Homo sapiens: one gene and its partners. The protein of the gene in region 1 purifies or fractionates together with the protein of each later gene. This does not show direct contact. Each region holds a gene or a part of one and is shown in the gene's direction. Other genes may lie near its edges.

What was found.
Region 2: the proteins of RANBP9 (region 1) and TRMT6 purify together in Homo sapiens (affinity purification with mass spectrometry, with the first as the bait; one large-scale study listed by BioGRID). This does not show direct contact.
Region 3: the proteins of RANBP9 (region 1) and CKAP4 purify together in Homo sapiens (affinity purification with mass spectrometry, with the first as the bait; 2 studies listed by BioGRID). This does not show direct contact.
Region 4: the proteins of RANBP9 (region 1) and DDX50 purify together in Homo sapiens (affinity purification with mass spectrometry; 2 studies listed by BioGRID and IntAct, with this or other methods). This does not show direct contact.
Region 5: the proteins of RANBP9 (region 1) and MARK2 purify together in Homo sapiens (affinity purification with mass spectrometry, with the first as the bait; 2 studies listed by BioGRID). This does not show direct contact.
Region 6: the proteins of RANBP9 (region 1) and GSE1 purify together in Homo sapiens (affinity purification with mass spectrometry, with the first as the bait; 2 studies listed by BioGRID). This does not show direct contact.
Region 7: the proteins of RANBP9 (region 1) and HMG20A purify together in Homo sapiens (affinity purification with mass spectrometry, with the first as the bait; 2 studies listed by BioGRID). This does not show direct contact.

The regions. Positions count from the first base shown.
Region 1 is NC_000006.12:13,638,534-13,642,809, reverse strand, and holds part of RANBP9 (ran-binding protein 9), read left to right. Parts: intron 1-218; coding exon 219-331; intron 332-1,502; coding exon 1,503-1,611; intron 1,612-3,056; coding exon 3,057-3,247; intron 3,248-4,276. UniProt on the Homo sapiens protein: May act as scaffolding protein, and as adapter protein to couple membrane receptors to intracellular signaling pathways. Acts as a mediator of cell spreading and actin cytoskeleton rearrangement.
Region 2 is NC_000020.11:5,940,175-5,944,450, reverse strand, and holds part of TRMT6 (tRNA (adenine(58)-N(1))-methyltransferase non-catalytic subunit TRM6), read left to right. Parts: intron 1-197; coding exon 198-289; intron 290-419; coding exon 420-503; intron 504-767; coding exon 768-892; intron 893-1,664; coding exon 1,665-2,023; intron 2,024-2,414; coding exon 2,415-2,500; intron 2,501-3,105; coding exon 3,106-3,208; intron 3,209-3,311; coding exon 3,312-3,398; intron 3,399-4,276. UniProt on the Homo sapiens protein: Substrate-binding subunit of tRNA (adenine-N(1)-)-methyltransferase, which catalyzes the formation of N(1)-methyladenine at position 58 (m1A58) in initiator methionyl-tRNA.
Region 3 is NC_000012.12:106,241,498-106,245,773, reverse strand, and holds part of CKAP4 (cytoskeleton-associated protein 4), read left to right. Parts: intron 1-4,276. UniProt on the Homo sapiens protein: Mediates the anchoring of the endoplasmic reticulum to microtubules. High-affinity epithelial cell surface receptor for the FZD8-related low molecular weight sialoglycopeptide APF/antiproliferative factor.
Region 4 is NC_000010.11:68,900,165-68,904,114, forward strand, and holds the start of DDX50 (ATP-dependent RNA helicase DDX50), read left to right. Parts: upstream 1-1,150; 5' UTR 1,151-1,220; coding exon 1,221-1,307; intron 1,308-1,891; exon of another isoform or gene 1,892-2,262; intron 2,263-3,950. UniProt on the Homo sapiens protein: ATP-dependent RNA helicase that may play a role in various aspects of RNA metabolism including pre-mRNA splicing or ribosomal RNA production.
Region 5 is NC_000011.10:63,845,284-63,849,559, forward strand, and holds part of MARK2 (serine/threonine-protein kinase MARK2), read left to right. Parts: intron 1-4,276. UniProt on the Homo sapiens protein: Serine/threonine-protein kinase. Involved in cell polarity and microtubule dynamics regulation. Phosphorylates CRTC2/TORC2, DCX, HDAC7, KIF13B, MAP2, MAP4 and RAB11FIP2. Phosphorylates the microtubule-associated protein MAPT/TAU.
Region 6 is NC_000016.10:85,661,822-85,665,321, forward strand, and holds part of GSE1 (genetic suppressor element 1), read left to right. Parts: intron 1-1,159; coding exon 1,160-1,272; intron 1,273-1,522; coding exon 1,523-1,793; intron 1,794-3,193; coding exon 3,194-3,307; intron 3,308-3,500.
Region 7 is NC_000015.10:77,472,497-77,476,772, forward strand, and holds part of HMG20A (high mobility group protein 20A), read left to right. Parts: intron 1-4,276. UniProt on the Homo sapiens protein: Plays a role in neuronal differentiation as chromatin-associated protein. Acts as inhibitor of HMG20B. Overcomes the repressive effects of the neuronal silencer REST and induces the activation of neuronal-specific genes.

The DNA.
Region 1 (4,276 bases):
CAACATAGCATTTGCAGTTATCTTTTCGAAAATAGTACATGAATAGAACAAAATGATGTTTTTCAAAAGCTTACTTTAAAGGTGAGGTTCTTAACGCCTTGTTTCAAGGAAATAGGTTCGTTTTTATAACACCAGAATAGATTTTGTTTATATAAATTGTAGTATGAAGCATGTATTCTCTTCACTAAAAGATGTATGTTTCTTCTTTTTATTTTAAGAATGGTTTCATCTTATTTAGTCCACCATGGGTACTGTGCCACAGCAGAGGCCTTTGCCAGATCTACAGACCAGACCGTTCTAGAAGAATTAGCTTCCATTAAGAATAGACAAAGTAAGGACACTGTGGTGCATGGCTAACATTTGTTTTCAGATTATAGATTTGGTTACTTTAATTTTTAGAAATTTTGTTTTTTTAATTAAAAAAATTTCAAATATATTAATTTAAAATGGATGCCTCTGAATTTTATTTTCACTGACATTTTTGAAGATCAGTTTAAAAATTCACATAGGACTATGTCAGAATTCTAATTCTAGAGAGATTTTACAGAAGTTTTTTGAAGGAATGTCTTTACCATTTTTTTCTTAAATGTTTTCTTAAGCTTTCAGGAAATAAACATTTAATAAAAAGATTTAAAAATAATAATAAAGTAGTCCTGATTAGTTGGAGGAGATAGTATGTGAAAGAAATGTAAATATCTTTGAATTTAAATGGCTAATACAGTATTGATCCATAAGTATTTATTATTTAGATCCTAGTGCTGGCCTCTGTGGCCAGAGATAAAACAGGTCCTGTATAACAATGGCAAGTCAGCATAACTGGTCCATAGTTAGCCATCCTAAAATTGGTGCTGTTTGTCCATCAGGGTGGGTATGACTTGACAAGAGTATAGAGATGAAAACAAAATAGATGGGTGAAATTAATGGGTGAAAACAACTATTTCATAGGTCAAATTGCTGTAATAGCACTGATTACATTGGGTTGTAGTTAATTGTGTGCTGTCCTTTTCTACTATTTTAATAAGCTCTGTTGAACAGAGATCACTTACTCATTTTGTATCCTTATCATCTAATTTAACATATAACAGATCAAGTGAATGCTCAACGAGTCTCTGTTAAATTGGAATCTTAGTCAAAAGCTAGCATTTTTCAGTCCTTTGTTCAGAAGATTATGTTTGATAAGGCATTTTAGTATCCCTTTAAAACAGTCTTTTTAATCTCAGTGTTTGAAACTTCAATATTGCATAATAGGTATTTTAACTATATTACTCGTATGTTCGTGATTTTAAAAAAAAAATTTGTGACCGTACTTGTTTTTCTAATTTTCTAGTATGTCTGAAATGTTTCCTGGATTGCCTAATGGAAACTATGATGTTAGAGAAAGAAATTGAAATTAATCATAATTTATTTAAAGATTTCTTACTAACTTTCTTTTCTGAGGTCACTAAGTTTATGTTTTATCTACTTTTGTAAAAGTTAATCGTTTGCTTTCTTTTACTGAATAGGAATTCAGAAATTGGTATTAGCAGGAAGAATGGGAGAAGCCATTGAAACAACACAACAGTTATACCCAAGTTTACTTGAAAGAAATCCTAATCTCCTTTTCACATTAAAGTGAGTTTGCATAATAAAATGCTATATTTGTTATATATTATAAATATTTGTCAAGTTATGTAATAAAAGACATTTTCGTGCTTTTGTAATTTTAGTTTTTTTCGTTTTTCAAGTATATACAATTTTGTAATGTCATTTAAGCAACATGTTATGAAAAATACTTTTGTGTTAAGGACCATAAGCAGAAGGTGTCTTTTGCTATGTATTTGCTTTTATTATTCTATTTATGTGTTTAAAAATGTGAAAATCTTATTTAGAAGATGGGTGTCTATTTTTCCTTCTCAGAAGTACCTTACATTTAATCTCTCTGGCATTTTAAAAAATTGTGGTAAAATATACATAAAATTTACCATTTTTTACATTCACATCATTGTGCAACCATCACCACCATCCGACTCCAGAACTTCTCCATCTTCCCAAACTGAAACTCTCTATTAAACACTAACCATCCATTCATCCCCCTAGCCCCTGGAAACCACCATTCTACATTTTGCCTCTATGAATTTGACTACCCATATAAGTAGAATCAGAGTATTTATTCTTCATTACTGGCTTATTTTAGTGTAATAGCCTTAAGGTTCATCTTTATTGTAGTATGTATCAGAATTTTCTTCCTTTTAAAGGCTGAATTTTACTCCATTGTTTGGATAATACTGCATTTTGTTTATCCATTCATCCACTGATGGACACTTAAAGTTTGCTTCTACCTCTTGGCTGTTATGAATAATTCTGCTGTGAACATAGGTGTACAAATATCTGAGTCCCTGCATTAGATTTTTTTGGTTATATACCCAGAAGTGAACTTTCTGGATCATATGGTAATTCTATGTTTAACTATTTTTTTTTAATAATAGCCATCCTGATTTGACAATTTTAATTGGTTTTATGAATCTTTGTTACTTAAAAAATGAGATGTTACTGAGCTTCAGATTTCAACTTGTTAAGCAACAGATATCCTTTGTAAGTCAAATGACAGAATTGTTTTGCTTTAGAATAAGAATTTTAAATGAGGCCCATTTTGGTTAAGAGGTTGGGAATGGGACGGGTGGGGAGAAAGGCTACGCTTTATATGTATCTCATATACATAAAATCATGTCCTTAGGCACAATTTGATTTGCTACCAAGCGCAAATGTTATTTTGATTAAATTACTTGTAGCCAAAAAAATGGGGTTCATATCTTCTTATAGGTAAATTTCCATTTGGTAAATCCTGATTAAAGGGGGTAATATTATTATAGTGTCTATTACATTGTACTCTCATTTTTCTGGAAATTCTAAAATTCTAAGCATTAAAGCATAGGACACCATATTTAATATTTTTAGCTTACTAAAGACCAATCCTACTGATAAATCAAAGTTTTAAAAATATTTTTAGAAATCTGTTGCTATTAAATAAAAGGCCATTTGAAGATTGTGTCTAAGTAAATTTTTCTTTTCTCCTTTAGAGTGCGTCAGTTTATAGAAATGGTGAATGGTACAGATAGTGAAGTACGATGTTTGGGAGGCCGAAGTCCAAAGTCTCAAGACAGTTATCCTGTTAGTCCTCGACCTTTTAGTAGTCCAAGTATGAGCCCCAGCCATGGAATGAATATCCACAATTTAGCATCAGGCAAAGGAAGCACCGCACATTTTTCAGGTGAGATTTAACTTATGACATTATTTTTAGATTTTTCCTCTTTATAATCTTAAACCTTTTTCCTTTTGAAAATCTGTATATTTCCAGCTGGGCACGGTGGCTCACGCTTGTAATCCCAGCACTTTGGGAGGCCAGGGTGGGCGGATCACGAGGTCAGGAGTTCGAGACCAGCCTGGCCAACATGGTGATAACCCCATCTCTACTAAAAATACAAAAATCAGCTGGGCATGGTGGCAGGTGCCTGTAGTCCCAGCTACTCGGGAGGCTGAGGCAGGAGAATTGCTTGAATCCTGGAGGCAGAGGTTGCAGTGAGCTGAGATCACGTCACTGCACTCCAGCCTGGGTGACAGAGGGACACTCCATTTGTCTCAGAAAATCTGTATATTTCCTTTGTAGCTGTTTTCAAATGTGTATACTTAAGATTTTTCTGGGTGAAAAATTGTAGGTTCAGATTGACATGTTCTCAGTACCAGGAAGTCACTTGAAGAACAGCTGTCTGAGAATAGGTTATTAGCAGACCTTCCTAAATGAAAGTCAGCATTCACAATGAGTAGTCACCAGAATTAAATTATTGATTTTTAATAGTGAAAAGGTAATTGTGTGTTTTAATAAAATATAAATTTAAAGGTGATGTGGCTGTGATACCTTATGCCACTGGTTACCACATCTAGCTGGGCTGCCGCTGCCTCCCTCCTCTCCCCCCACCCCCAACCTTTCCCAACCAAGCCTCTTGCAAAAGTCAGCTCTGCCTAGTTCGTTTTCTCCCATCCGTTTGTTGGCTCACCAGTCTTACTCTCTGTGACTTTGGGCTTTCTCTTAATTAAAATTCTCTCCTTTCTTGGCTTTTGTGACATCACTTCTACAGGTTTTTTTGGTTTTGTTTTTGTTTCTTTTTAAAGAGTTGGAGTCTCGCAATGTTTCTGATGCTGGTCTCAAACTCCTGGCCTCAAGCACTGCTCCTGCCTCAGCCTCCCAAAGTGCTGGGCTTACAGGTGTGAGCTACCGTGCCCAGCCACAGATTTATTTCTG
Region 2 (4,276 bases), on another chromosome or scaffold:
TGGAGTTATAAAGTACTTGTATTTTATTATAAATTCCAAATAGAGTATAGAAATATAAAGTTCATCTATTTGGACTTCTGTGGAAAAGGGATTGGAGAATCAGACCATTGGATCCATTCTTGGGTAAGAAGCCTTTGGAAATTACTTGTTTTGTGAAAGTAAAGTTTCAGAAAATCTACTTGCTCCTTTTCTTATAGGAAATAGTTCAGCAGTTAATTGAAAATAGTACAACATTCCGAGACAAGACAGAATTTGCCCAAGATAAATATATTAAAAAGAAGAAAAAAAAGTAAGTAGTTTTTATTTTAAAAGGCCCACAATATTAAACTTCTTATATGTTTATAAAATATACATTTTATTACAAATAAAATATTTTAAGTCATTTTTTTAAATCAGCGTTCTGTTTTTTCTTCCCCCAGATATGAAGCCATCATTACTGTTGTGAAGCCATCCACCCGTATTCTTTCAATTATGTATTATGCAAGAGAACCTGGAAAAATTAAGTACGCTTTGTTTCCTTTCAAAAGTATAATTGGGGGAAATATGTCTTTAAGAAAGTCATGATTTTAAGTAAAATGAAAAAGCTTGCTCACCTGCATAAAGTATCCTCCTACCTCATAAATTGTAAGTCCTTTTACTGTCACCTCCAAAGCAATCAATAATCTTATCAACACAATTTTAATAAAGCAAACAAAACTTGAAAAATGATGATTAAAATAATAGGCTTTACTTAGCTAAAAATGAACAAATTATTGTTTTTACTTTAGCCACATGAGATACGATACACTAGCCCAGATGTTGACGTTGGGAAATATCCGTGCTGGCAACAAAATGATTGTGATGGAAACGTGTGCAGGCTTGGTGCTGGGTGCAATGATGGAACGAATGGGAGGTAAGATTTAATATTTCCATTTTCAACAAAACCCCACCCTGATGTGAGTAAAGGTGGTCCAAAAATGTAAACTCATGGAAAGCCAAATTGAATTACTTCAGGGTTAACAAAGTGACTTGGGTGAACCTGCACGGCTCCTAGCATGGGGACCTTCTTACACAGTCTCCATCACCCAGCCCCCCACCCATGGGTACCCCCAAACCCATGGCAATTGTCCTTTCTAGCTTCACTGTCAGTGGGCATGATGCTGGAGCCTGTGGCTGGCTAGGGCTTTCGGGACAGTGATTTTAGTAAACTCCTGGGTAGCTGGTGCTCATTTCATTGGGCCTAAATTGAAGGGATTGAGTGGGAAGATTACTAAGCATGTATTCTCTCTGGAAGAATACAACACAGCCTGATTTGTCTGGTTTTTTTCTGACCCCATAGAAGGTAAGAACTTGTAACTGCTCCATTTGAGGATCGGAGTGAGGGGAAGCAGAGTCCGTCACCAATCATGTGACATCCAAATTTGCAGACACAGGGTTTTACAATAGTATCAAGTGGGGATAAGCTTCTTTGAGTCTTCCTGCTATCTGCTTTAGAATTATATTACCTCCATTGGTAATACTCATAGACTCCAAACAGACTCCCTGAGGAGCTGCACCATCCTTCAGCCTCTGAATAAAGTACTAATAGAAAGACCTTCAGTCTCATTACTGTGGAGGACTCACTGAGGGTTTACGTAGTCTAGAGTCACTCCACGGGCAGATGTTTGTTTCTTTTATCTGTTCAGGTTTTGGCTCCATTATTCAGCTATACCCTGGAGGAGGACCTGTTCGGGCAGCAACAGCATGTTTTGGATTTCCCAAATCTTTTCTCAGTGGTCTTTATGAATTCCCTCTCAACAAAGTGGACAGTCTTCTACATGGAACATTTTCTGCCAAGATGTTATCTTCAGAGCCAAAAGACAGTGCTTTGGTTGAAGAAAGTAATGGCACACTGGAGGAAAAACAGGCTTCTGAACAAGAGAATGAAGACAGCATGGCAGAGGCCCCAGAGAGCAACCACCCAGAAGACCAGGAAACAATGGAAACAATTTCTCAAGATCCAGAACATAAGGGGCCTAAAGAGAGAGGAAGCAAAAAAGATTATGTAAGGATGCCAAGAGTCCCCACCACCCCCATAATCTCAGTCCCTCAGTTAACTTCAGTTAAGTCATGAGATTTAGTTTGGCTTTGGTGTATTAGCTCCCAAGATGATAACTATCAAAACAGAGAACGAGTGTGTGTACATGTATACAAACGTGTGATTCGGTCTTCGGGATGGAGCTTTAGGATACAGAAGCGTTGCATAGATAGCTTAATCATGGTTTTTATAGTATATAGGCTTTCTTGTGTATTTGCAACTTCCTTATAAACAACCTGCTTCTATTGGTTTAGTCCAAGTTGATAAATATTGTTGAAATGTTTTGACAGGCCAGAGCATTTCCATAAATTTGACTGAAAGACCCCAGTACATTGATTTCTTATTTTTCTTTTTGAAGATTCAGGAAAAACAGAGGAGACAAGAAGAGCAGAGGAAAAGACATTTAGAGGCTGCCGCTCTGCTGAGTGAAAGAAACGCAGATGGGTGCGTTGATGGAAGAAGGCAGGAGACTCCTCAGTGCATGTGGGCTCTGCTTCAGACAGATTGGCATTCTCTTTCTCCTTGTCTGCTTTGACTCTAGTGGGACCCGAGATGAGGATTTTGTCTTGGGGGTTTTTTTAAAGAAAGGAGGCTGAGGCTGGCAGGGGTGGGGAATTGATGATGCTGGTTTCAGGGTTTCAGAAGAAATTGAATCTTCTCCATCACTGCATCAAGATGGGCCCTGTGGTCCCACTGGATGCAGGGGATGGGGCACTCAAATGCTGCGATACAGGCTATAACAGATATCCACAAAGCAGCTTATGCAGTGTTGGATTTGTTTCCAGGTGATTTTTTTTAAAAAATCAAGAATGTCATTAAATGCGACTTAGAGTTGCCAAGTACCACAAGAGCTTCTAACCTAGTTCGCGTTTCCTAGAAAGAAATAGCTCATGATTGTATTCTGTTTTGGATTTCTAGAATGTTATATTTAAATCTCTTCTCTTTGTGAGTCATGCAAATTAAATACATGATCATTTTAAATGCATTTTAAAACCTGTGCTCCACTTTGAGGGTGTAGAGAAATAATTTGTCTGGCATTTTCCTTACAGTTTAATTGTAGCTAGTCGTTTCCACCCCACTCCCCTGCTGCTGTCTTTGCTGGACTTTGTGGCCCCTTCAAGGCCGTTTGTGGTCTACTGTCAGTACAAAGAGGTAATACTGGAATGGAATGGGCAGGAATTCTTATGTCTGAATGTTGATTCTTAAACTGCATCCCAGGAAGTAGTTCTTAACAGAATTCTGTTGTTGTCTGCAGCCTCTGTTGGAATGCTACACAAAACTGCGGGAGAGGGGAGGGGTCATCAACCTCAGGCTGTCTGAAACCTGGCTCAGAAATTATCAGGTACGTGTTCTTACAGCCAGTCCCAAGAGCTGCCCTCCCGAGACTTGACTTTCCTTGCAGTAGTACTAGAAGTCATTAAATAGAGTTATCTCAGCCAGGCACAGTGGCTTATGCCTGTAATCCCAGCACTTTGGGAGGCCAAGGCAGGCAGATCGCTTGAGCCCAGGAGTTCAAGACCAGCTTGGGCAACATGGTGAAACCCTGTCTCTACAAAAAAAAATACATAAATTGGCTGGGCATGACCCTGTATCTACAAAAAATATAAAAATCAGTCGAGCATGGTGGCAGGTGCCTGTAGTCCCAGCTACTCAGGAGCTGAGGTGGAAAGATTGCTTGAACCCTGGAGGTCGAGGCTGCAGTGAGCCGAGATCCCACCACTGCACTCCAGCCTGGGTGACAGAGTAAGACCCTCTCTCAAAAACAAAACAAAATAAAAATAGAGATGTCTCTGTTTCTTTCTACAGGGATGGAGATTTCTCATGGCTGTTACTCAGAGAATATGCCCCTGACTTTTTGTGACCCTTTTTTTCTCTTGTTATGTCAGAATATATTACTCTGTAACTCTGCCCTAAAGGCATTTAAAATGCAAACCATTATGGTTCTTATTTCCCCAAGGCCTCAGTATCACTGTGGATGATGTAATTGACAATAGCAAAATTCCCAGGTGGATGAGAAACTGGCCCTTTCCTCTCTGCCAGGATGTTTTTGCAGCAAGTTTTCAGGATTTACTGGTGGGCTCTGTGTCAGTTCAGGTCTTCTGGAAGACATATGCTAAGATGGAAGTTGAAGTGTAAGAGATTTATTGAGGGAAATGCCTTAGAAAGATAAGGGGAGAGGGAGCAAGATTGGTGGTGCAGGTTGATGCCTGGGCAAGGAGC
Region 3 (4,276 bases), on another chromosome or scaffold:
AAAATACAAAAATTAGCGGGGTGTGGTGGCACATGCCTGTAGTCCCAGCTACTCAGGAGGTTGAGGCAGGAGAATTGCTTGAACCCGGGAGGTGGAGGTTGCAGTGAGCGGAAATCCTGCCAGTGCACCCCAGCCGGGGCAACAGAGTGAGACTCCGTCTCAAAAAAAAAAAAAAAAAAAAAAAAGACTGGCAGAGCAACTGGAATGAGTCAGCCTGCTAAACGCTGCAGGCCAAGGGAGGTGACTTTTCTAAGGGAATTAAGTAGGCAGTGCTGCTTTGCCTATCCTGAATGTCAAACCATTCTTAAAAAATAGACATACTGCTGGAGTATAATGACTAGCCTCTGTTTCTTCTCTTTCATCCTCCTACTTACTAGTCAATCATAATATTTATTAAAGTCTGACAGTTGCATGGCTCTGTGTAGGCTTTGTGGGAGGGTATGAAGGAGCAAAAGACACGAATCACTTGTGCAGCGCATAAGGAGGTGTCAGTTGAGGGTAACTCCTGTGAAAGTTCAGAAGAGGGAGGGTGTGGAATTTCGCCTGTATCCCGGTGGCCAGGGTAGTGCCAGCCATCTAGCTGGTGATCGATAAATGTTGAGAGAAGGACTGTGATGAACACCGTGGCAGGGGCACTATTTTGAGCATGTTTGAGAGAGAGGAGGTGGCTACCCTGCCAATGGCAGAGTCACATGTAGGAAATTGTGAGAGAGGGTGGGTTGGAAGTTGAGGCCAAAATAGGGAAGGTCTTGAATCCAGGTTAATTCTCTGTGCTTCTCCCTGCCCCTCACTTAGTCCCTTCTTTTTGCTTCTCACCCCTTCTCCATCACAGCTATGTATATAGATCACTTTCTTCTTTGGGGCTCAGTTTTCCCACCCACACAATGAGAAGAGGGCTCCATCCAGACTTTTAAGAATCCTCATGGCTCTAAAATAATTGAAATAGTGACTTCTCTGTTTTTTATTTCATATTTTATATTTCGTAGAGACAGGGTCTCACTCTGTCACCAGGCTGGAGCGTAGTGGTGTGATCATAGCTCACTGCAGCCTTGAACTCCTGGCCTCAAGTGTTCCTCTTGCCTCAGCCTCACAAGTAGCTGGGACCACAGGCATGCACAAGCACGTCCAGCTATTTATTTATTTTTAAAATTTTTGGTAGAGACAGGGTCTTGCTGTGTTGCTCAGGCTGGTCTCAAACTCCTGGGCTCAAGCAGTCCTCCTGCCTTGGCCTCTCAAAGTGCTGGGATTACAGATGTGAGCCACTGCGCCTGGCTGACCACTTTTCTTTTAATTTAGTAGTGTAATCAAACTATAATTTAATGTGTCATATTTATGGTGCACTTATTACGTGCCAGGCACTATGCAAAGCATTTGAAAATGCATCATCTGCTGACTCTCACAACAACCCCAAGAGGTAAGTACTATTATCAGCCCTCTTTGACAGATGAGAAAAGTGAGAGGCTAAGTAACTGAGCGGTGATATAGCTAGTTAGTGGCTGGGCTAGGATCCAAACTGTTGTCTAACTCCTGGAACACTATTAACCACTCCACTATTTAGCCTAGTACATAGTAGGTGCCCAATAAATGTTCCATTGACTTGAGACTCAGAACATGGCCAGAACAGTGTTAGATTTGCCATAGAATGTGGCCACTCTGTCTGTATCTTTGGGGTGGCCAGTAAATAAATTATTTTGCATTGAGGAACCAGTTGTGTTTGGTTCTCTGACAGCCTAAGTTTGAACCCTTTTATAACTCTTGGTTACTTGTTGGGGGGTGGAGTTTGGTTCATAGCAGGGAAGTATACTTACAGTATTCATAATTACTGTTCACTATGGGTCAGCCATGCTATTAAATGCTTTATAGCCATGATTTCTGTTCTCCCAGCCACCCTCTGAGGCAGGTATCATTTAGTAGTACCATTTTGCAGATGGGGCAGCTGAGGACTGGCTGTGTAACTCATTCAAGGTCACACACAGACCATAAGTTGTGTAGCTGGAGTTGGGTGCCCACCTGTCTCTTGTTCTCCAGATGTTCTTGTTATTGGAGAATGGCTCAAATCTTCTGAATGACTGTAGCACAGGCAGAGAGGCAGGCCTGTCCTTACCCAGAGGATTCAGCAGGCACAAGTGGGTCCTGGGCTTCAGAAAGTGTTGGCAGTTCATCTCTAGGCCCTCTGAAGAGCCTGTGTTGCCCTGGCAGATCCAGCGTGATATAAAGCAATGGTAGGAGTAGGCTTAGGCCTGGTAGGGACAGTTTAATGAGACTAGGACCTATTTGTGGAAGAGTGAGCTCCCTGGTCATATTTCTTTGTTTTCTTGTCTAGATTCTCTGGCTAAGGAGTCAGGGCTTCAGGAGTTGGCAGTCTCTCTTCCAGGTACTCAGGGCACTTTGAAGTCAGTGCCCCTGCCTGAGCATATCACATACTGGTTGAGAGCTCAGGTTCTGAAATCAAGCATTTTGGGATTTTAACGTTTGAGCCTACCACTTACCAGTTTCCTCATTAGTAAAATGGAGATCACTGGGAGATACCAACTCATGAGATTATGGTGAGGGTGTAATGAGATGATGTGTCTGAAGTCCTTTGTATAGTTATTGGTCCATCACAAGTGTCCGGTTGAATGTCAACCACTGCTAACACCCAGTCCCCCCACCCTAGGGTGTAACCTTGAGGGCAAGGATCCTAGCCATTATTTCATCTCTGGCATCTTGCCTGTTGCCTACCACTTAGTGGGCATCCCACATTTGTTGGGGGAACAGATATTTCCAATGCATATTGATGATAATGAATTATTTGCACATAAAGATGCACAACTCATAGTCCCCTCAGTAGGGGAACACCATGTTCTTTTTTATAGTGTTGGGGGTTGGATATAATTTCTGTTCTAGTCTCCTTCCTAACCATTTGTGAAGAGCCAGCGCAGGTCAGGGCTGACAGGGATCAGAGGAGACATGGACCAGCTCATCAGGCTTTGCTTGAATTCCCTCATTATGTGATTCCATCAAAAAACACTGGATGAAAGCCTGCCATGTTGAAGGTACTGTGCTCACCTGCTCACACCTCTGTTCTGAGTGCTATGCTTAGAACAGGCAGACAGTGTGATTTAATAACGTAGTTTCAGAGATGGGCTCTCTCCAGTACCTTCACAGAGTGTCCTTTAAGACTCAGGTTGTATTTGGTTGGGCAGGGAAATTGTCTAGTATTCTGGAGCCCCTGAGAACCTTATTCTAATCTGCCTTAAAACAGACTGATGGAGCTAGACAGCACTTTAGAGACCTATTTGCTATTGGATGAGGAGCCTGGGACTCGGAAAGTGAATGTGACTCTTCATGCTTACAGAGCTGGCTACTGGTGGGGCTGGCACGAGAGCTGAGGGATGTTGTTCACATCCCACTTCAGTTTATCCTCCTGCCTTTTGGCATGGGTTGAGGATATTTCTAGGAATCTGCAGACTTACCAGGTGCTTCAGAAGAAATGGGAAATAATCACGATGATAATAGCTGCCATGTATTGAGTGTTCACTATGTGCTGGGCACAGTTTAAGTACTTGATATATTATTAATTCACTTAATCTTCATACAGACAATCATATGAGTCCGGTACTGTTTTCCCATCCTTCAGCTGAGGAAACCAAGGTACAGATAGGCTAAATAACTTCCCCAAGATCACACTGCTGGAAAGTGTTAAAGTTATGATTTGAACCTAGGCAGTCTGGCTCCAGAGACCGTGCTGTTTTATTTTTTAACTTTTTATCATGGCAGTGTTCAAGTGTAAACAAAAAAAGAATATAATGAACCTCAGTTTCAAGAATTACTGATGTTTTGCCATTCTTTTTTCATTCCATCGGCACTCTTCCCCTCTGCCACTTTTTTTTTTTGGCTGGAGTTAGAAGTCTGACTGTGAACCACTCTCTTGCCCTATGCGTGCCCAGCCTGGTCTCCCTTCTTCTCCAGATGCTGTTGGTGTTGCATGGCCATAGCACAGGCAGAGAGGTTGTCCTGTCCTGAAGCCAGAAAATTTACTAGGCAGAAGTGGGTCCAGGGCTTCAGAAAATGTTGGCAGTTCAGCTTTAGGGCCTCTAAAGAGCCTGTGTTGTCCTGGCAGATCCAGGGGATAGTGAATTAGGAATTAGTTTTAAAATGAGGCCAGGCGCGGTGGCTCACGCCTGTAATCCCAGCACTTTGGGAGGCCGAGGCGGGCGGATCACGAGGTCAGGAGATCGAGACCATCCCGGCTAAAACGGTGAAACCCCGTCTCTACTAAAAAATACAAAAAATT
Region 4 (3,950 bases), on another chromosome or scaffold:
GTAGCCCTGTGTCTCCATTGGGTAGAGTAGCTGGGTCGCAAGGATCATGAAGAGATGAAGAAATGGCTGTGAAAAGCCAACTAGCCTCGGTGATAGTAAGCAAAGGTATAGAAACACTAAGGAAGTTACCCTTTGTATTGTCAAAGGTTTCAGTTTTGTGTAAGGTGGTGATTCACGGGCAGTTAATCTCCATCACTAAAATTAAATCCTTTTTTATTCATTGCAAATAGATAATCTGTGGAAGACATTTTGGCTTTTCTCGCTAGCAGAAAATGTGAGGCTTCTTCAGGTTTTTCCTGTTCATTGTTTCACGGGAGCATCTTCCCCAAAACACTGCAAAACTCAAAGTTCTCAGGCTGATGTGGCAGAAAGAGCATTGATCTCGGCTTCAGGAGCTAAATTCTCTAGTCCTGACTGTGCCACTAACAGACTGTGGGACTTCAGACAAGTACATTCCTTTCTCGGGTTTCTTATGTCAAATGGACAGCGTGAGAAGGATCACAATGAACCAGGGATCAGCTTCACGATTAAAACCTAAGACTTAAGAGACGGACATCTGTCCGTTCCTGGCTACACCTCCGGCCCATCTGGCCCACCCCAAACTGCGCGAAGCCCCTCTCCACCGACGCCAGGCCTGTGGCCTCGCGCGAAGCTGTTGGTCGTTAACATCTCCCCCGCAATGGGCGGGATGGAGGGCTTCAGCTTCCGGCTGCAAATGGCGAGGCGGCGCGCGGCGTTGCCCACTGGCCTCGGCATGGGCCTGCCCACGCACCCGCCCAGCGCGCGCCGGACCCTGTCTACCGCCGTTGAAGGGCTTCCCAGCCCTAGCAGTGCGTACTGGGAAGCCCCCAAAAGGCTCTGCGAGGCCGAGGAGACCCGTTCGGAGTGGGGGAGGGGAAGATAAACCGAACTATTTATGTTAATCAGTGCATGCTTCCTTTATGGAGATTGGCCAGGGTTTTACTCTAGTAACCAATCACTTCAGAACAAGGGCGGGCCCGTTGATATCTCTCACACTCATTGGTTGAGAGGTTGCGGCGCAATGGAAGGTCTTAAACCGAGAGTATCCGGGATTATTTTTCCCCGCCGTGCGGTGCGTGTCCCGGAAGTGACGCATGGCCAAGGCCGGGCGGCCGCCTTGCCCCCGCTTCCTTTCACGCTGTCGCTGCCCGTAGGTGGTTGTGGCCACTGTGCCCGGAGGGAGGCGGCGGTGGCCAGTAATGCCTGGGAAACTCCTCTGGGGGGACATTATGGAGCTGGAAGCACCCTTGGAGGAGTCCGAGAGCCAGAAGAAGGAGAGGCAAAAGGTGCGCTGAGCATGGGCCGCGCCTCCTTTTGGGCTGCGCCGGCTTGGGCGGGGAGGGGAACTGTCTGTCCCTGATGATGGCCTGTCAGAACCGGGCCGGAGCATCCGAGGGCCTCCCTTCGCGCCGCCCTCGGCCCTCTGGGGTCGCTCAGGGACCGTTTCCACCTCCACCCTCCCGACCTGGAGAAAGATGGCCCTGGGCTTTGGGCCTCTCCTCCGCGTGGCCCCTCAGCCCTTCCCGTTGGCGCCTGAATCTCAGATGGGCAGACTCAAGCTCCCATCACCATGGAATCTGTTCTTTCTCTCCTGAAGCAGTGACGCTTGCCATTTCGTTTTCATTGGCCCTCTTAGAAGATGATTAAGAAAAAATGATTGCTTTGAATATGTGTTGCTTCTGTCACCCCGTCCCCTGTGCAAGAATCCTGGGGAAAGCGATCTTAGGTTTACAGACCTCAATAACTAGTCTGTAGAGGCTTAAGGAAAAGTGTCACTGAGACTTGCCAGGATTTGTCAGTGATGGAGATCGTGTGGGTTGCATTATTAATAGCCTTTACTGTCAGTATTTTCATTCAATCCGCAGGTGTTTATTGAACCTAATTTGTACCATACTCTTTGCTGAGTACCAAGGAGGTTAAACTAAATAAGTAAAGAAATGGTCTCTGCTCTCAAGGAGCCTGTAGAGGAGTTGTAGTCTTTCCTCCTCCCAGCCCCCTGCCCTCCAAAAAAAAAAAAAAAAAAAAAGGAAAAGAAAAAACATCCTGAAACACTCAGAGGATCACAAGGTGCTGAAAAAATGCCCAGGTAAAATTATTACTGGAGACATTTGACCTGGAAAAAAGAAATCAGCTGAAGAGGCTAAGGTGGCAGTATTCGAAGGCTGACATTCGACAAAAGAATGAGACTTATTTTGTATAGCCTTAGAAAGCAGAATCTACCTCTCTGACCTTATCACTAAGGTAAACTTGCCATTTCAGCTAACACTTTTATTGTGCTAAAATACACATAACGTTTATCATTTTAACCATTTTTAAGTATATAGCTCTGTGACATTAAGTATATTTACATCGTTTTGCAGCTGTCACCATCATCCATCTCCAGAACTTTTCATTGTCCCAGACTGAAACTCTGTGCCCATTAAACACTCACTTCTCATTCCTCTCTCCTTCCACTCCCGGCAACTACCATTCTACTTTCGCTCTGTGAATTTGACTACTGAAGTTACCTAGAGTGTAAGCAGAAAACCAAGCAGGTATTTTAAAAAAGGCTTCTTTTGAAATTCTTGTCTTTTGCATCCCAATCCTGTCCAGCGGTCAAGGCCTAGTTTATGTCTTTCCTGACAACCCGAATGTACCGTTATCTAGTTTCAGTGGCTATCTTCATCATTTGATTGACATTTGTTATGCATGTCTATATAAAATTAGTTCATTTTTCCTGTATGTATCCCACATATTTCCCAAAAGTTCTTGAGGAAAGTGACCAAATCTTTATCCATCCTTATGTTTCACTATGTTGTTTTAAATTGGTGGCTTTCACATTGTAAATTCTCCAGAAATACATATTGACTGCCCTTTAACTATGAAAGATAACCAGAGATTTGGAAACGAATTGGAATACCAACTAAAAGAAATAGAGCATTAGAATACAGGTCTGGTGGCTAGCTGCAGTGGCTCATGCCTGTAATCCTAGCACTTTGGGACGCTGAGATGGGAGGATTGCTTGAGCCCAGAAGTTTAGGTAGAGTTTTGTAGAGACCCTGTCTCTACAAAAAATAAAAAAATTAGCCGGGTGCGGTGGCTCATGCCTGTAATCCCAGCACTTTGGGAGGCTGAGGCAGGCAGATCACCTGAGGTCAGGAGTTCAAGACCAGCCTGGCCAACATGGTTAAATCCCATCTCTGCTAAAAATATAAAAATTGGGCCGGGCATGGTGACTCACTCCTGTAATCCCAGCACTTTGGGAGGCTGAGGCGGGTGGATCGTGAGGTCAGGAGATCGAGACCATCCCGGCCAACATGGTGAAACACCATCTCTACTAAAAATACCAAAAAAGGCCAGGTGCGGTGGCTCACGTCTGTAATGCCGGCATTTTTGGAGGCTGAGGCAGGTGGATCACCTAAGGTCAGGAGTTCGAGACCAGCCTGGCCAACATGGTGAAACTCCGTCTTTACTAAAAATACAAAAATTAGCTGGGCATGGTGGCACATGCCTGTAATCCCAGCTACTCAGGAGGCTGAGGTAAGAGAATCGTATGAACCCGGGAGGCTGAGGTTGCAGTGAGCTGAAATCGCACCACTGCACTGCAGCCTGGGTGACACAGCGAGACTCCATTTAAAAAAAAAACCCAAAAAACCCAAAAATTAGCTGGGTGTGGTGGCGCGTGCCTGTAATTCCAGCTACTCGGGAGGCTGAGATACAGGAATTGCTTGAACCTGGGAGGCAGAGGTTGCAGTGAGCCGAGATCGCACCATTGCACTCCAGCCTGGGTGACAGAGCAAGACTCCGTCTCAGAAAAAAAAAAAAAAAAATTAGCTGGGCGTGGTGGCAGACGCCTGTAATCCCAGCTACTCGGGATGCTAAGGCAGGAGAATTGCTTGAACCCAGGAGGCAGAGGTTGCAGTGAGCCAAGATCACGTCATTGCACACCA
Region 5 (4,276 bases), on another chromosome or scaffold:
GGGGCCGCCAGTTTCCCCACTTTCCCATCAAAGCAAAAATTGAGAAGGATGTGGAAAGGGTGGGTGGAGTTTAAAGCTGGCCCTTCCTCCTTCAGTGGAAGTTCAGCAAAATGACAAACCAGATAGGTGGCTAAATTTCCTTCTCTTGATGGGAGATTCCAGTATTTGTACGTTTTGTGCTTGTAGCTTGGATTCTCCAGGCCTCCTCCCAGCTTTCATCAAACATGAGTGAGTCACTGAAGTGTTGTCTATGCATTTTCTCCCTTCTGTCTCTGCAAAGGGAAGAGTAAGCCTTTACAAACCTGTGGGGGAGGAAGTCACCCTCTTCCCACTGCTGGAGAGCCAGGCTATCCCCAGGTTAACCCTGAAAGTGCTAACTCCTGAGCAGAATGTTACTGCCACCCGCCCCCTTCCTTTTTGTTATAGGCCATTGAAGGTCATTGCTCGTCTTTTTTTTTGAGACAGTCTTGCTCTGGTCACCCAGGCTGGAGTGCAGTGGCAGGATCTCAGCTCACTGCAACCTCCACCTACTGGGTTCAAGCGATTCTCATGCCTCAGTCTTCCAAATAACCAGGATTACAGGTGCGCACCTCCATGCCTGGCCACTTTTTGTATTTTTAGTAGAGATAGGGTTTCACCATGTTGGCCAGGCTGGTCTTGAACTCCTGGACTCAAGTGATCCGCCTGCCGTGGCCTCTCAAAGTACTGGGATTACAGGAGTGAGCCACCGCGCCCGGCATCATTGCTTATCTTTTAGACTGAGATAGTACAGCTGATTCTAAACAGCACCCAGAGAGAATCTGGCCTCTTGATTTCCAGTTGTGTCTCAGAGGAGGAGGCATCCCAGTTCCTCCTCTTGCCCTCTAGACATCTCCTCCTCTGATAAGTATAAATAGGCTAGATCCCTTTATCTTCATATCTGTTTTTGTCTGGAATGTTTCAAGTTTCTCAAGCTAGGTGTGGTGGCTCATATCTGTAATCCCAGCACTTCGGGAGGCCACGGCAGGAGGATCACTTGAGCCCAGGAGTTCAAGACCAGCCTGAGCAACATAGTGAGACCTCATTTCTACAAAAAAAAAATTTTTTTTTTGAGACGGAGTCTTGCTCTGTTGCCCAGGCTGGAGTGCAGTGGTGCGATCTCAGCTCACTGCAACCTCCGCCTCCCGGATTCAAGTGATTCTCCTGTCTCAGCCTCTTGAATAGCTGAGATTACAGGTGTACGCCACTGTACCCCGCTAATTTTTGTATTTTTAGTAGAGATGGGGTTTCACCATGTTGGTCAGGCTGGCCTTGAACTCATGACCTCGTGATCTGCCTCAGCCTCCCAAAGTGCTAGGATTATAGGCATGAGTCACCCCGCCTGGCCAAAAAAAATTTTTTTTTTTTTTTTGAGACGTTGTCTTGCCCTGTCGCCCAGGCTGGAGTGCAGTGGCACGATCTCGGCTCACTGCAAGGTCCGCCTCCCGGATTCACGCCATTCTCCTGCCTCAGCCTCCCGAGTAGCTGGGACTACAGGTGCCCGCCACCACACCCGGCTAATTTTTTTGTATTTTCAGTAGAGACGGGGTTTCACCTTGTTAGCCAGGATGGTCTCGATCTTCTGACCTCGTGATCCACCCACCTCGGCCTCCCAAAGTGCTGGGATTACAGGCGGGAGCCACCGCGCCCAGCCCAAAAAAATTTTTAAAAAGTTACCTGGGTGTGGTAGCACATGCGTGTATCCCACCTACTCAGAAGGCTGAGATGTGAGGATCACTTGAGCCTGGGAAGTTGAGGCTGCAGTGAGCTGTGATCATGCCACTGCATTCCAGCCTGGGCAACAGAGTGAGACCCCATCTCAAGATAAATAAGGTTTGTCAGTCCCTGTGGTGGTTCTTTCCGCAGATGTCTGTCTTTGGGTTGGCACTTATTTCCCCCTACTTGCAGTTATTCCTTACATTTCTCATTAGAAAATGGCAAAAAGGGCAAAAGTAAATTCATTTCCTTTTTACACCAAATCATTAATTTTAGGCTTATAAAACTAAATGAACAGAAGATTTGGTAGGAGAGGAGGGGAGATGGACACTGATACTGGTGGCTAGGTGATCCTGAGGGACAACTGGTGCCTGGCAGAAAGAGAGGAGGGCTGTGTTCAGTGACTGGCTCCCAGCCACCTTTTTGGCCTTTTTCTTTTTAACATGAGGAAGGCGGAGCAGACCAGGGGCTTCTCTGTAGAACCAGTCAAGCTGGTTTTGGGCAGCCTTGGCCTATTTTCTTGTGTGCTCTTTGGGAAGTTGGCAATACAAAGGTCTGCCTCCTTTGGGGCTGTGTTCGTTGAGGCGAAAGTTTGGAAGACAACTATCTGTCAACAACCCCCTTCTCCCCAAACACTGAATGGGTCTCTGAGCTGGTCCTTCACTCCAGGGAGGAGGCTTTCTCTCCACCCTATGCTGAACCTGAAGGCAGCTTTGCTTTATACACCTTTCACTGAAAGCTCTAAGACATTAACTCCTTTTTTGGACTCCCTTCCCAATTCACAACTTGGTGAAAGACCCTCAGCCTAGCCAGGAGGAAGGGACTGGGTCTGCCTTTGGCTCCTCATTTATGGGTCTGGGAGGGGATCAGGACTCCTTACTGCTATGATCTGGCTGCTAAATTCAGTGACATCCCAGGCCTTTTTTCGTCCACGCAATGGGACTGTCTGTCCAGGCCTGCTGGGAAAGAAAAGAGAGAAAAAATAGTTTTTGCTCTTTGGCAGCTTACAGGGACTTCAGCCATAGGAAACAACCTGTAGGAAAGGTGGGAGCTTCCGGTCACCATGTGTGCTGACACTTCCTGCAATAGCACTAGGAAGTCTTTCTCAGGGAGCAAGGCCAGCCAGGTAGGATTATTTCCCAGTCTCCCAGCTAAGCAGGAAATGCCAAAATATGAACGTTTAGTAATTAGTGAGTGTAACTACCTGCTGACAGAGCTCCAGCCTAGACCTTGTCCTTGGGGGCTGGTTGCCCCTGTTGATACTACAGTGAGCTACTCATTGCTTCTGATTACCATTTCAGTATGAGTTTTGCTTTGGTTTCTGATATCCCATGTGCGGCTGCCTTTTTTCTCCACCTTCTTTTTGTTGTGTCTTTTTGTTTTTTTGAGACGGAGTCTTGCTCTGTTGCCCAGGCTGGAGTACAGTGGCACAATCTCAGCTCACTGCAACCTCCGCTTCCCAGGTTCAAGCAATTCTGCCTTAGCCTCCCAAGTAGCTGGTACTACAGGCATGTGCCAGCACACCCGGCTAATTTTTTTTTTTTTTTTTTTGAGACAGGGTCTCGCTCTGTCGCCCAGGCTGGAGTGCAGTGGCGCGATCTCAGCTCACTGCAAGCTCTGCCTCCCGGGTTCACACCATTCTCCTGCCTCAGCCTCCCGAGTAGCTGGGACTTCAGGCGCCCACCACCATGCCCAGCTAATTTTTTGTACTTTTTTTTTTTTTAAAGTAGAGATGAGGTTTCACCATGTTAGCCAGGATGGTCTCAATCTCCTGACCTCATGATCCACCCACCTCGGCCTCCCAAAGTGCTGGGATTACAGGCGTGAGCCACCGTGCCCGGCTGTAACACCTGGCTAATTTTTGTATTTTTAGTAGAGATGGGATTTCACCATGTTGGCCAGGATGGTCTCGATCTCCTGACCTCGTGATCCGCCCGCCTCGGCTTCCCAAAGTGCTGAGATTGCAGGCGTGAGCCACCGCGCCTGACCTTGTTGGTGTTTTTAAGAGACAGGGTCTCACCCTGTCACCCAGGCTAGTATGCAGTGGTGTGATCATAGCCCACTGCGGCCTCAAATAGCTCCTAGGCTCAAGTGATTCTCCCACCTTAGCTTCCAGAGTACTGGGACTACAGGTCACACCTGGCCCCCTCAACCTTCTGGACTTTTCACTCACCCCATCACTCCCTACTTCTCCGCCACAGAAGACTGTCATTGGCTATCTTTGCAAGTAGTATTGAAGCCACTCGGAGATTGTTGCTTTGTCTTTTTGCTCATGAAAGTTTGAATTACTGGTTCTCCAGTCACAGGAAGTGGGGCTCCTTAGGCCAGCTCCATCTCACGTAGTGTACTGATTATGTTGAGCTTATGGCACAGCTGAGAGGAGAGTCCAAACTTTTTGAACACTTTTTGACTTCCAATAAGTGGTTCCACTATGGTTAAGAGCAGGTTTGGTGGGCCGGGCGCGGTGGCTCATGCCTGTAATCCCAGCACTTTGGGAGGCCAAGGCAGGCGGATCACCTGAGGTCAGGAGTTCGAGACCAGC
Region 6 (3,500 bases), on another chromosome or scaffold:
GAGCCTGCATGCCAGCCACCTGCCCCTCTCCGTCCACTCCTGCTTTTTGCCTGGGGTAGTCCCAGGCCCCAGGTGGCAAGTGCACTGGCTTCTTTGTAGCAGCATGACACCCTCGTAGGGGAGGCAGACCCTAGTCCCCGTGCCTGTCCTGCCTCGATGCAAATTGTCCCAAAAAGCCAAATCAAAGCCCGCCTGTGAAGATAGTTCCGCAGACAAGCATGATGAATAAGTGATGAGCGGAGGCTAATAAGATAGTTTTAAATATTAATAGTGCAGCATAACAGGAGAGCCGGCCTGGGCTCAGCGGGGGCTCCACATACAGGGCCGCTGCCACGAGCTGCAGCAGGTGGGTCAGGGGTTGAGGACGCGGCGGCTGGCACTGCCCCGGGTCAGGGTAGGAGGTCAGGCACTTCATTCTTATTTCTGCTTGGGGGTGGGGCGTCCTCAGCCAGCGGCTCCCTGAGTTCTCCAGAGAGCCAGGAAGAGCAACCGAGCAGGCGAGAGTGTGCAGAGGGGAGCAGGGGCTCCAGCCCAGTTTTCTTCCTGATGCTGAACACTCAGGTCCTGTCCAGTGCTGAGCTCAGCCTCCTCTTCAATAGAAGCTGGGGCACAGGCGGTCTTCCTGGTTGTTGGTCTAGGCTGGATGGAGGGCCCAGCCAAATTTCTCTCCCCTACTCACTTTGTAAAGGAGGAGGGAGATACCCCAGCGCCCCTGGGCAGGGGCTCTGCTATTGTTCTCTGTGTCTTAGAGAGCTCAGGCCTGTGTGTGCCTGTCTCCTCCCAGGAGATGGACTCAGATGGCCACAGCATGGGGGAGTGCATGTGCACAAGCAGCCCTGTGTTGCCGTGGACACAGCCCCAGGCCTGTGTGATGAATGGTTCCCTGCCAGGGGGAGGAGGGAGGTCTTGTCAGCCCAGGGGACCACCCAGCTACTGGGAGCCATGGATCCCAGGGAAGCCTGGTGTCTGCGGTCCTGCAAAGCCCCAGGACTGGGTTAATGTTGGTTTCCACCTCGGTTGAAAGGAACTGGCCTTCAGGGTGTTCAGGTGCCAGCAGGCCTGGCCTGATAGGTGCTCTGCACACATGAGGCCCTGCGGGCATGTCCACTGGACAGATGAAGGCTCTTTGTCTGGCTGAATACAACCATTTCTCCATCAGGGTACTACTACGACCTCGATGACTCTTACGACGAGAGCGATGAGGAGGAGGTCAGGGCCCACCTCCGTTGCGTGGCCGAGCAGCCGCCCCTCAAACTGGACACGTCCTCTGAGGTACTGGGCTCTCCTCCCCACGGACATGCTCTGGGCTGGGCTCTCGTTCCTAGCGTCCACACCCTGCAGTCCACCCCACTGTTGCTAGGTTCCTCCGAAGTCCTGGCGGGTTCGCCCCATGAAGCTCTTCTCCCACCAGGCGCAGCCAGCTACGGCCCACACTTCGAGGACCCCAGGAGGGGACCCCGGGACAGTGCAAGCATACCACTGCCAGTGGCTTCAAACTCATTTGTTTTCTTTCCCAATCTAGAAGCTAGAGTTTTTGCAACTTTTTGGCTTGACCACCCAACAGCAGAAGGAGGAATTGGTGGCCCAGAAGCGGAGGAAGCGGCGGAGGATGCTGCGAGAGAGAAGCCCGTCGCCCCCAACAATTCAGAGCAAGCGGCAGACGCCTTCACCGAGACTGGCGCTGTCTACCCGCTACAGCCCTGATGAGATGAACAACAGTCCCAACTTCGAAGAAAAGAAGAAGTTCCTGACCATCTTCAACCTGACCCACATCAGCGCTGAGAAGAGGAAAGGTAGGGCCTCGCCTGGGTAGGAAGGTGGGGGCTCACTGGGGTGGAAGTGGGTTTCTGAAGCAGCAGGTGGGGCCGGTGGACTCCAGGCAGGATCTGCGATCACTGAGCCTGAGGCTGCCCCTTTACTCCTCCCGGCTCCCGGGAACAGCCTCTCTGTTCTTACAAGCCCTCCATAGCAGCCTTACCTGACAGGCTTTGCTCTGAGAGCCCCACCATCTTGACCTGAGGACTACCCATGTCACTCATCCATCTCCCAGCGCCCGAGAAGGCGCTCTTTGAGCCGAGTGCTCCAGTGACCACCAGGCGTGAGGGGAGGTGCCAGGTGTTCCAGGTTTGTCTGCTGCAGGCTTTTCCTCTTGCTGGACCGCTTAGGTGGTCTGCTGGGTGTTGTGTCCTGGTGGCCGGAGGCCTGGGGAAGGGCTGCCAAGCAGGGCAGCACACACTGAGCAGATGGCTTGCCTTGAAAGATGCTTCCAGTTCAGTCTGGCCACACAGGGCCACATTGGGACAGACCCTCTGGGCTCGAATCCATATAGCAGAAGAAACAACGCAGCCACAACACCTGCTCAGGGTTTTGGCTTCCTTGGCCTGCAGCGCAGGCTGGCTTGGTGCCCAGATGTTGACGTTCCTGGCCCTGCCCCTTACGCACGCTTTCAAGTCCTCGTGGGCCCCTGGCCTCCTCTCTGGGAGAAAGTCGAAGGAAAGCAGAGTTACTTCTTGGACCTTGAGCAGCTTCAAGGTGTTGATCAGGGTGTAGCCGTTTACTTTCTCCTTTTAACCAGTCAGTAGTTTTCCCTTTCTCTTAGCGGGCTAGTGACGTGTTGATTGCCAGCCCAGTTCCCTAGATACAAAGCATCTTTTTCCCTGAATTTTTGGAGGAAAAAAAATTAAGGGCGATGCAGCCCTTGAGTTTCACAGTCAAGAAGGGCCGGGTGACATCAGGGATCTGCTGCGTGGAACATCGTGGGGTCATCTTTCCCCTTCAGGAAGTGGCAGTAATGGTAGGAGTGGGGGAGAAGGCACCCTGCCTCAGAGGCCAGGCCTGGGTCTTTGGGGTGTTTCTTTGTGTTGGGGCCACCTTGTCTGACTTGAAATAAGAATACATCCTCGCACGTCACCACCGAGGTCCGTGGGCACAGTGATTCACAGAGGCGTCGTCACCGCACGGACAGCTGTCTTTGGAGCACGTCTAGGACATTGTGTAGTGGATGCCGAGAGCAATCTGGGCTCGCTTTGAGATGGTTGCTTCCTTTCAACTGGGCCTGCCCCATCACACCTGCTTTTGGTTTTTCGGGCTTTAGTGCTTTGCCTGCCCCTCAAGGCTCGGCTAGAATCCCGCTGTCCTTCTCTCCAAAAAATGATGCAACTGGCTCGTTAATCTCAGGCTGCTTTTCTCATAGACAAAGAGAGACTTGTTGAAATGCTCCGTGCCATGAAGCAGAAGGCACTGTCAGCAGCAGTGGCCGACTCCTTGACAAACTCTCCGAGGGACAGTCCTGCCGTCTCCCTGAGTGGTAAGGGAAGGATAGCCCCACCTGCCACCACCCAGGACCATCCCATGGGCTGCCCAGGCTCAGAGGCGACCACTCGAGGTCTTCATCATTGTGAATGTGGCCTCCTGCAGGCTGTCTTCTTCCATTCTTGTACCAGCGTACGATTCTTGCACAGTTGTGACAGTCATTGGGACGGAACGTCAGTTTGAAGGCG
Region 7 (4,276 bases), on another chromosome or scaffold:
ATCTCCTGACCTCATGATCCACCCGCCTTGGCCTCCCAAAATGCTGGGATTACAGGCGTGAGCCACCACGCCCGGCCCAGTATCTCAGTTCTCACACCTCCTTTCCTATTCCCTCACTTCACTAGCACATGTTTGTGTACTGGCTTCTTTCCTCCCACTTGGTTCAGCCCCATTGTTAGGATTTAGGCCTGTGTTTCTGTGTGTGTATGGGATTTAGGTGTGTGTGTTGTTTCAAATTCTGTTTTCTCCTTCAAACTTTTCTTGTTTCCTCTAACTTCCTTTAACCCTCATGGCTCTCTATACTTGTGTTATGTGCTTAGCTGATCTGACCTAGGGGTTTTGAGGTAATTCAAGGGCTCACACTCTTTGGTTGTAATGTCTTTGTGGACATACACAGTCTAGTTTCCATCTTTATATCCAACCCCATACCACCTATCATGATACCTTTGCCTTGAGAAGGTATTCCACAAATGATTATTTTATGGAATCTATTCAAAGTTGACCTGAAATAACTGAGAATTTGAACAAAAAGAATTTTCTGATGTACTCTTTTACATGTGTTTGGTTTTTTACTAAATCAAGGAAATGTTGGTTACCTTAAAACATAGAGAAAAGATTCAGATTCACAGGTCAAATAGACGTTATTACCATCTATGAATTATAAAGTGAGAAGCATAGTAAATATTTACATTTTATTCTTCAGATAAATCCTATATAAATGTAATTATATATGACATTCTATGCTCTAATTAGGATGAAATGTTATGTTGTTTTGCTGGAGAAACTTTGTATGTATTCTTTGTATTTTAAATCATAATAATATTGTAAACTTTTCATATTAGCAGACATTTGTATAATTACTTCTCTCTTTCTTTGCCTGTGTGCCCAGCTATCAATATCATGAAATTCCTGTGCTTCTTTTTTTCTCTATTTTATAGCTTCTCTATCCTTAACAGTTACCAAAGAGAATTTGGACAGTAACCTGAAACATTAGATCTCACATTTTCTAGTCAGTCATCTGAATAGGTGTCAGTCATCTGACTCATTTCATCACTATGAATTTTGCTGGCCAAACTATATGTAGCATTTTTGTCTTCAGTAAACTTGATAGTTGCAGTCAGAAAAGATGTAGATTTAGTCTGTATCATAGAACCTGCTGCTGATTATTTGAGAAGTGAAGGTGTTTATTCAGATACATTAGTGTGATATGAATTTCTGTAATTTCTGTGATTTGCAAAAAGAAGTGAGTCTCTGTATTTCCCTGTTACAGGATTAGACACATGTTAAACCAAACAAAAAAAAGGAGTGAGTAGATGGAGAGCCAGCAGTTGTTTCTTAAAAGGTTATACAGTAGGTTCTGTAAATCCATGTGTTGGTATGGCCACAGCAGGATAAAGCTCCTTTAGTAAGCGTGTTGACCCAATTAATGTCCCTTACTTCATCCATTTTTATTTTTCACTGAATAATATGTTTCCTAAATTAGATAATTTTAGAACAATTGCAGTATAAAAGAACTGATTTGAAAGTTTTAAAACTGTTTTTAAACACTGTTACCCAGTAATTTTCTTACATATAACTTCTTAGTATAATAGAAGTTCAGAAAAATAGCACTATGGGTGAAAAGCAGCCGCAGAAGGAGCCCATGGAAAGGAGTAATTGAATCAGGACTTAAAAATGACCTAGGTTTTGTGGGCATCTCAGGGTGGGTAAAATGGCTTGAGCAGAGGTATGAGTAAGTTTTTAATAAAAGAGCAAATATCTTGCAGTGTCTAAAGACCATAGATCCTAAATACATACTTATTTCCCTTTACTTATCCTATGAGGAGTAAAACACTGAGACTCAGTGATCCTCTCAACTGACCACCTCATTTTGCCAGTGAGGAAAGTGACTTGCCTAAGACAGTATATAGAATGGAAAGAATTTACCCAGAATCACTTACTGAATTAAATTAGAGGCAGAATTGTGACAGAAACCCAGGCCTTCTGTGTCATAGTCTAACATTCTTGACAGCACAGTGCCATGCTACATAGCATAAATTACAGCGTTGAAAGTAAAAATGGGCCTCGTTGCCCAAGGTGTCAGCAAAATGTGTTGCCAGTTAAGTAAACTATTTGGTTTGTGTATAGTAAAGAAACCTATTGTATTCCTAAATGAAACTTGGATCCCTAAGTCATTGTTACCAAGGCAGGTACTGGAGAGGGCATATTAGAGCTAAAGAAATGCTGACCTGAAAGCCATTCTGCATAGCAGTGGGGCACTTCAGGCTGGTACACAATGTTAAGAGCATTTCCCAAAGTAAAAGTCTCTTGAGAGAAGCACATATCACACTCTTTGAAATTCTGGCCCTGAGCCTAGATCACAGCAAAATAGGTTCAGTTCAAAAGGGCCTCTTTTCTCTTAACCTCCACTCAATATATAGAATGGAAACCAAAGTGAAGAATATTCTTGCTCCTCTCAAATCGAAAGCCAGCCCACTAGACCCAAGAGTTAGCGAGTATTACTCTCAAGAAAGTGTCTATATCTCATGTGAAAACTAAGATAGAAACAATAATTTTGTTTCTCCTTTAATTTATGAGAAATGACAGAATGACACTCAGCTTGAACAAATTAGACCCTTTCAGTGAAAGGGTAATCAGATCCTTATGATTTTAATCCTTTGAGCTATCCTTGGAGCAGCTTAAGTACACCCAAGCCCCCAGAAGGATCCTCTCCATGCCGTGAAATGTGCTCAGTAATGGAAGAGCGCTGATGGTTTTTATTACCACTCTTCCATTAAGTAGAATTTCTCTGTTACCTTTCAGAGACTGAACAGTTTCATTGAATTGCTTTAATGTTTCTTATTTTGTGCTCTGAGAATCTGTACCAAGGGGCAGTGTGTTAATGCACCTATGTGGTGCTGTCCTCTGCCCTTACATAATTAGCTTGATTTGGACTGCTCTGGCAAAGAAGAGAAAAGATTACCAGTCTGAGGAGAGTCAAGACTTTGGAGGAGAGGGATCTTTGTACCATGGTAATGGGAGCCAAGCGTCTCCACTTTACCCATCTAACTGGCAGATATTGAGACGTATAGCTTAGGTAACTGATCTCATGTAACTGCAGTTAAGTTGGAGATTGAATAAGATAGGATGATAATGTCCTAAGTCTTTATGCTGTCATCTGTGGACTTATGTTTATATCTGTTATGCCTTGTGCATGTTGGGATTGTGTGTCATTAAGTTTTGTTTTCCTGCAGCAGCCCAGTAACAGTTAAAGCATATGGGAAGCCAGCAAATTTGAGAGAAAGCCACTGCGAAATATGGCTAAGATTCCTTCTGGAACCAGCCTTTCTTGTTCATACATTAGTTTCCATTGAAATCCCCTAGGAACTGGCTCGAGGTAGAGCTTTGCATGTTGAAACTTGGGACTTTCGATTGATAATTTTGTTGTTCATTTTCAAATTATTCTGGGAAACTTTGCTTTCTTTTGTTAGGAAGAAAAATACAAGTAGAAATTAAGTGCTCTGAAATTACATAGCTTTTCAGTGTCTTTCTTGCTCAGCTGCCATTGGCAGGTGGTTCACACAGCCCAGCCCCCTTACTAGGCGGCCACCGTTATGAATACAGGAGCTCGGGTGTCAGATTTCCCTCTTAAGCTGTGAACTGCTTAGCTTTTCTACTGGGCACCAAGTCATTTTTGTGTTCAAAGATTTAAAAAACTAGTGGAGGCTGGGCACGGTGGCTCAAGCCTGTAATCCCAGCACTTTGGGAGGCCAAGGCAGGTGGATCACCTGAGGTCAGGAGTTCAAGACCAGCCTGGCCAACATGGCGAAACCCCGTCTCTACTAAAAAAATACAGAAAATTAGCCAGGCATGGTGGTGGGCACCTGTAATCCCAGTGACTTGGGAGGCTGAGGCAGGAGAATTGCTTGAACCTGGGAGACAGAGGTTGCAGTGAGCTGAGATCGTGCCACTGTACTCCACCCTGGGCAACAGAGAGGGACTCCCTCTCAGAAAAAAAAAAAAAAAAAAAAAAAAAAGCTAGTGGTGACAAGAGTAGGAAAGATACATTCTGTCTAGCTTTAAACAATTGTTTATAGGAATGAAATCTAGGTATTATGTTTGCATGTTTTTCATGTTATAAAGGTCCTGGGATCTTAAGATTTCACTAGCAGTTTCTTCATTTCTCACTTCCTGCCATTTTACCACCTTTGTTATGGAAAATTTTGAACATTATGCCAACACACTTAAAATTAATATTCACAATGCTTTCAACTTCAAATTCATTTTAGAAACGACA